2 linked regions of the Homo sapiens genome follow. The gene in region 1 interacts genetically with each later gene. Each region holds a gene or a part of one and is shown on either strand. Other genes may lie near its edges.

The links. Genes that interact genetically often act in the same process or in processes that back each other up.
Region 2: changes in METTL17 (region 1) and PSMC1 together harm fitness more than expected from each alone (negative genetic interaction), as found in Homo sapiens cells (one large-scale study listed by BioGRID).

What each region holds. Positions count from the first base shown.
Region 1 is NC_000014.9:20,995,152-20,997,590, reverse strand, and holds the end of METTL17 (ribosome assembly protein METTL17, mitochondrial isoform 2 precursor), read right to left. Parts: intron 2,427-2,439; coding exon 2,358-2,426; intron 1,755-2,357; exon of another isoform or gene 1,691-1,754; coding exon 1,640-1,690; exon of another isoform or gene 1,383-1,639; coding exon 1,299-1,382; exon of another isoform or gene 1,261-1,298; intron 1,065-1,260; coding exon 880-1,064; coding exon of another isoform or gene 807-879; coding exon 701-806; 3' UTR 556-700; downstream 1-555. UniProt on the Homo sapiens protein: Mitochondrial ribosome (mitoribosome) assembly factor. Binds at the interface of the head and body domains of the mitochondrial small ribosomal subunit (mt-SSU), occluding the mRNA channel and preventing compaction of the head domain towards the body.
Region 2 is NC_000014.9:90,259,424-90,263,084, reverse strand, and holds part of PSMC1 (26S proteasome regulatory subunit 4), read right to left. Parts: intron 2,971-3,661; coding exon 2,874-2,970; intron 1-2,873. UniProt on the Homo sapiens protein: Component of the 26S proteasome, a multiprotein complex involved in the ATP-dependent degradation of ubiquitinated proteins.

The DNA of each region.
Region 1 (2,439 bases):
CTGAGGTAGAGAAAGTATAGGTGGGGCTTTAAAGGGCTTGCTTTTTTTGTATTCTGGCTTTCGTACTCAGGCACCAGTTTCCCCCGATTCCTTATCCATTTTTCTTGCTTCTGCTTTAATGTTTAACTTGTACATTCATCATTATAGCAAAGGGCTTATGGAAATCTGGTTTTTCTACTTCTGCTTTAATGATCAGCTTACACATTCATCATTACAGCGAAGAGCTTATGGAGCTCTGAACTGCCACAATAGGAGAGGGCGAGCTTGAGATTTGTGTGGGAAGCCTGGCACCAAAAATCTGAGGAAGCTCTTCATTACAGGATAGGCCAGGATAATTAACTATACCTTTTACATGTTTTTTTTTTTTTTTTTTTTTTAAGGGAGGACGTCTTGCTCTGTTACCTATGCTGAAGTGCAGTGTTACAATCAAAGTTCACTGTAGCCTTAACACCTGGGCTCAAGTGATCCTCTTGCCTCAGCTTCCTGAGTGGCTGGAAATGCAGACACATGCCACCGTGCCCAGCTTCTACACTTTTTAAGAATCACAAAATCCACTTCCATTCTTCAAAAATTTATTATTTATTATTAAAAATCTCAAACAAACACAGACATATGGGGATACCAGCATTCCCCTCCTGGATACCAGGCAGCTTCAGCCCTGGCAGGCACGATAGAAGAAAATACTTGTTACACATCCTCATCAACTCTCAGAGGGATCCTGAGCCGTAGATGGAGGAAACGCAGACGGAGTAAGCACAGGTAAAAGATCTCCCCAGGAGCTGACACGGGCACAACGATACAAATCCCTGTGGAAACAGATGCTGGCGTGGGCTGCAGCTTCCTGCCACATCCCACTGATTTTGGTCACACCCCCCATACCTGCCGTGCCGGCGGGCTGTGAGCACAGCATGCTGCATGTGCCCATCTGGACAGCACAAGTGACAATGCACATGGCGAGGCCGTTTAAGGACAGGCTGAGTGATACGGGGCCAGCGATGAGCCTCCTCTGGAGACCCCCGAGCAAGGATCACCATAGAGAACTTTTCTTCCTTTGGTTTCTTGTTCTAAGATAAGGAACATAGAGACTGTTTAGAAGAAAAAGATATGGGAAAAAAGTTTGTACAGTCCCTTCTTCCCCATTCCTGCAGTCCTTTTTTACAATGTATAAATCATATACATGTAGGCCCTAAAGTCTCCAGGCTATTCTACAAATTATCCAACTCCTCCTAACTCTGATTCTTTTTCTTCCTGTTTTTCCAGGATGTTTGCTTCCTGCTGCAATATCCCCAGGTACCTACCCAGCTGAAGGGGATGGGATGGTACGCCTGTGAGAAGCTACAGGCCAGGTTGGTCAACTGGGGACAAGGGAGTTCATGGGGACACTGTGAACACATAAAAAAATGAGGTAAGACAAAAGAGCCATCAATCACAAAACTTAAAAACTGAGAATAATAGAGTCAAAAGGGGCCAGGGAGAAGGGAGGACAGGAGCAGTGGGTAGGAAGAGCCAGGGGAATCATTAGGTAGGAACTGGATAGGAACACAAAGTAGTGGAGAGTGGCTTAGCTTTACCATCTTACATTTCCCGGCCACGCCTAAGTTCAGATCCGTGTGGTGGGACAGGCAGAAGTAATACTCACCGGGGCAAAGACAAAACCAGGTCGAGGGTCCAAAGGTGACTTCTCTTTTCCCTGAAATCAAAGGAAATAAAAGAAATAAAGCTGGGCCAAGGGTCTATTTTCATAATTCAATCTCTGCACTCAGTAAACTGAGGACTCCTTTAACACTCAATTCTAATAACGATTGACTATGTCCTTTGAATTAAGCTGGCTGCATCTTTAATACTCCAAACAAAGAACTTTCTCTTTGCTGCAGGAGAAAGGCAAGAACTTGGCACATAGTACGGTGCTCTCCCTTGTCAGCAACCTCCACTCTCAAAAAAATCCCACTCCAGGACAATTAAATTTATGATTATACACTGGCTCATACTCTCCCCCAGTGACAAGGTTCTTAGCTCAGCAATGCCCTAGATTAGGAGTCCGCAAAGTTTCTTTTAAAGGGCCAGAGAGTAGGCAAAATCTATCTCTGTCCCAACTACTCAACTCTGCTGTTTGTAGTGTGAAAGCAGTCACAGACAACAGAGGCACAAATAAGCATGGCTTATATAAAAACAGGTGGCAGGTCGGATTTGATCCACAGGCTCTCATTTGCCAACCACTGCTCTGTATCATAATGACTTCATACGCCCAGTTTCCTGAGAGCCACCCTTGTCAATACATGACAGTCTCTTTCGTTTTCAAGAGAGTAACAGTAATTGGTGCCATATGGGTGGGGGAGTGAGGGAAGAAGAAGCCTTACCTTAAGGACCAGATCCCTGGCATCCATGAGAAGGCTGTGCCCAGCTTTTGTTCCATTCTCCACCAGTACCTGTTCACAAAAG
Region 2 (3,661 bases), about 69 Mb from region 1:
ACACCCTGGCTGAATAGTCTGTATACTTAAAGAAGAAAAAAGCTACTGACCCATCAGATACCTGGGTCTGGTTTATTTTTTCCCATAGGTACTAATAAAAAGTTACATATGTTGCTCAGGCAGTATACACTGTTGTATGCTGGCTATATACATACTCATCTATTTGTAGAATTTTGAAATATCAGGGATATTAACCCTGCTTATCACATATATGGCAAATATTTTTTTTCCATACATTATTGTTTCTTTTGGCTTTGAAGTCTCAAGCCACGTAAGAATTGTGTCTTTTTTTTTTTTTGAGACGGAGTCTTGTTGCTCTGTCGCCCAGGCTGGAGTGCAGCGGCGCGATCTCAGCTCATTGCAACCTCTGCCTCCTGGGTTCAAGCGATTCTCCTGCCTCAGCCTCCCGAATAGTTGGAATTACAGGTGTGTGCCACCACGCCCAGCTAACTTTTTGGATTTTTAGCAGAGACGGGGTTTCAACGTGTTAGCCAGGATGGTCCCAATCTCCTGACCTCGTGATCCACCTGCCTCAGCCTCCCAAAGTGCTGGGAATTGTATCATTTTTACAGATAAATATGTCAACCTTTTCTCTTATGGTTTCTGGGTTTTCCAAGTTACTTCAAAAACTGTCTTCTTCCCTAAGGTTAAATATATTTCTGAATTTTCATTTATTTATTTTCACATGTATACCTGTATTCCATTTGGCAAGAGTCAAGAATCTAATTTCATTTTCTCTGGACAAAAACTTTTGAAATGCCTTTTATATTTTTTTAATTTTATTATTATTATACTTTAAGTTTTAGGGTACATGTGCATGACGTGCAGGTTTGTTACATATGCATACATGTGCCATGTTGGTGTGCTGCACTCATTAACTCGTCATTTACATTAGGTATATCTCCTAATGCTATCCCTCCCCCTCCCCCCACCCCACGACAGGCCCCAGTGTGTGATGTTCCCCACCCTGTGTCCAAGTATTCTCATTGTTCAATTCCCACCTATGAGTGAGAACATGCAGCATTTGGTTTTCTGTCCTTACAATAGCTTGCTCAGAATGATGGTTTCCAGCTTCATCCATGTCCCTACAAAGGACATGAACTCATCCTTTTTTATGGCTGCATAGTATTCCATGGTGTATATGTGCCACATTTTCTTCATCCAGCCTATTAATGGACATTTGGGTTGGTTCCAAGTCTTTGCTATTGTGAATAGTGCCGCAATAAACATACATGTGCATGGGTCTTTATAGCAGCTTGATTTATATTCCTTTGGGTATATACCCAGTAATGGGATGGCTGGGTCAAATGGTATTTCTAGTTCTAGATCCTTGAGGAATCGCCACACTGTCTTCCACAATGGTTGAACTAGTTTACAGTCCCACCAACAGTGTAAAAGTGTTCCTATTTCTCCACATCCTCTCCAGCACCTGTTGTTTCCTGACTTTTTAATGATTGCCAATTGCCATTCTAACTGGTGTGAGATGGTATCTCATTGTAGTTTTGATTTGCATTTCTCTGATGGAAATGCCTTTTATATTAAATAACCCACCCTATTCCCCACAGACCTGAAGTGGCACCTTCAATGTATATTAAATATCCATGTAACATGACTGGTTTTGGACTTCCTACTCTGTTCTGGTGGCCTCTTTCTGTACCAATACCATACCAATTCATTATGGTAGACCAATGGCTGGTTTTACTGATTTCCTTCAATTAACTGAACAATATTTTTTAAAGTAGTTTAAGTATTTCTTCTTAGTTTTTTCTTCTAAGCAGGGAAGAGCATATTTAGATGAGCATTTGGGGAGGTATTTGAGCTGAAGCCTAAAGGATGAGAAGCAAGTAGCCATGAGAAGAACTGGGGGAACATTTTAAGCAGAGGAGTGAGTAAGGGCAAAGGCCCTGATATGTACAAAAGTCAAAAAAACATAAGGCAGGCAGTGTGACCGATGAGCAAGGGGGAGTGGCAGGGCTGAGGTCGGAGAGGTGGGCTGGGTCAGGTCACTTGGTATGAATTTTATTCTATGTTCGGCAGGAAGCCATTGAAAAATTTTATTATAACTTCAGGCTTGCATGATCTGAATTTCAATACAGTGGCATTTCATTTCATGAAATAAACATGATTCTTAGTTACTAAAGTTCAACCTGGGTTTTGTCATTTAAAACTATACTTTTATTTTATTTATTTATTTTGAGACAGAGTCTTGCTCTGTCATCCAGGCTACAGTGCAGTGGCACAATCTTGGCTCACTGCAATCTGCCTCCTGGGTTCGAGTTAAAACTATACTTTCAATCCACTAGAGGAGCCAGTTAAAGAAAAATGGTGACTTTTTTGTTTTTTTTTCTTTTTTGAGACGGAGTCTCGCTCTGTCGCCCAGGCTGGACTGCAGTGGTGCAATCTCAGCTCACTGCAAGCTCCGCCTCCCGGGTTCATGCCATTCTCCTGCCTCAGCCTCCCAAGTAGCTGGGACTACAGGCACCCGCCACCACGCCCAGCTAATTCTTTGTATTTTTAGTGGAGACAGGGTTTCACCGTGTTTTGCCAGGATGGTCTCAATCTCCTGACCTTGTGATCCGCCCGCCTCGGCCTCCCAAAGTGCTGGGATTACAGGCGTGAACCACCGCACCCCGCCACGGTGACATTTCTTAAAGTGAGACACAATCATATAATACTGTATTTTAAAACAAAAGATAACTTGTATGCCAACCTAGAGGAATGCCACACTCAAGAGTGAGGTAGAAATGAATCACAAAGCTAGAGCTTCAGTTGCCCCTCTACTTCCTGTTACCCCTTTCAGACTCTAAGCTACATGCACAGAGATGGTTTATCCTAAGAACTGGAAAGATGGCAAGGAGAAGCCATGTCATTACCCAGTGGCAGTTTGCTGGCAGCATCTGGTCCCTTTGTTTTCTTCTTCTTTTTCCCCACTCTAGTTGGTACAGGAGGTTCATATTTCTTTTTCTTGTCCTTGAGTTGTTAGAATAGCAGGAAAAAAAAATCACATGAAAATCATATTAAAACACACATTTATTTCTGTACCACCATCATCTATTTTCAGGTGGTACAATTTTCCTTATCTTTTAGGATGTTATTAAAAACCTGACTTGTTTCACATTCCTGCAATTTTAATAAGTAAATATGATTATAATAAGTAAATGTAGGCTGGGTGTGGTGGCTCACGTATGTAATCCCAGCATTTTGGGAGGCTGAGGCGGGAGGATCACTTGAGGTCAGGAGTTTGAGACCAGCTTGGCCAACATGGTGAAACTCCATCTCTACTAAAAATACAAAAATTAGCCGGGTGTGGTGGCAGGCACCTGTAATCCCAGCTACTCGGGAGGCTGAGACAGGAGAATTGCTTGAACCCAGGAGGCGGAGGTTGCAGTGAGCCGAGATCATGCCACTGCACTCCAGCCTGGGTGACTCCGTCTCAATAATAATAATAATAACAAATGAAAATAAATGTAATCGTTTTACCATACACATAAGTGACAATTAGCCATATTATTCCAATAAGGTATAGAGGGTTAAGAATCAAGTTATATGCCAAAAGTTTAGGTAACCTGAGACAATCTTCATACCTCAGGCTATTAGACACCAAAATTATAGGCAATTTACTTTAATACTTCTATAATGTCATTGCTTTTACACAAATAAA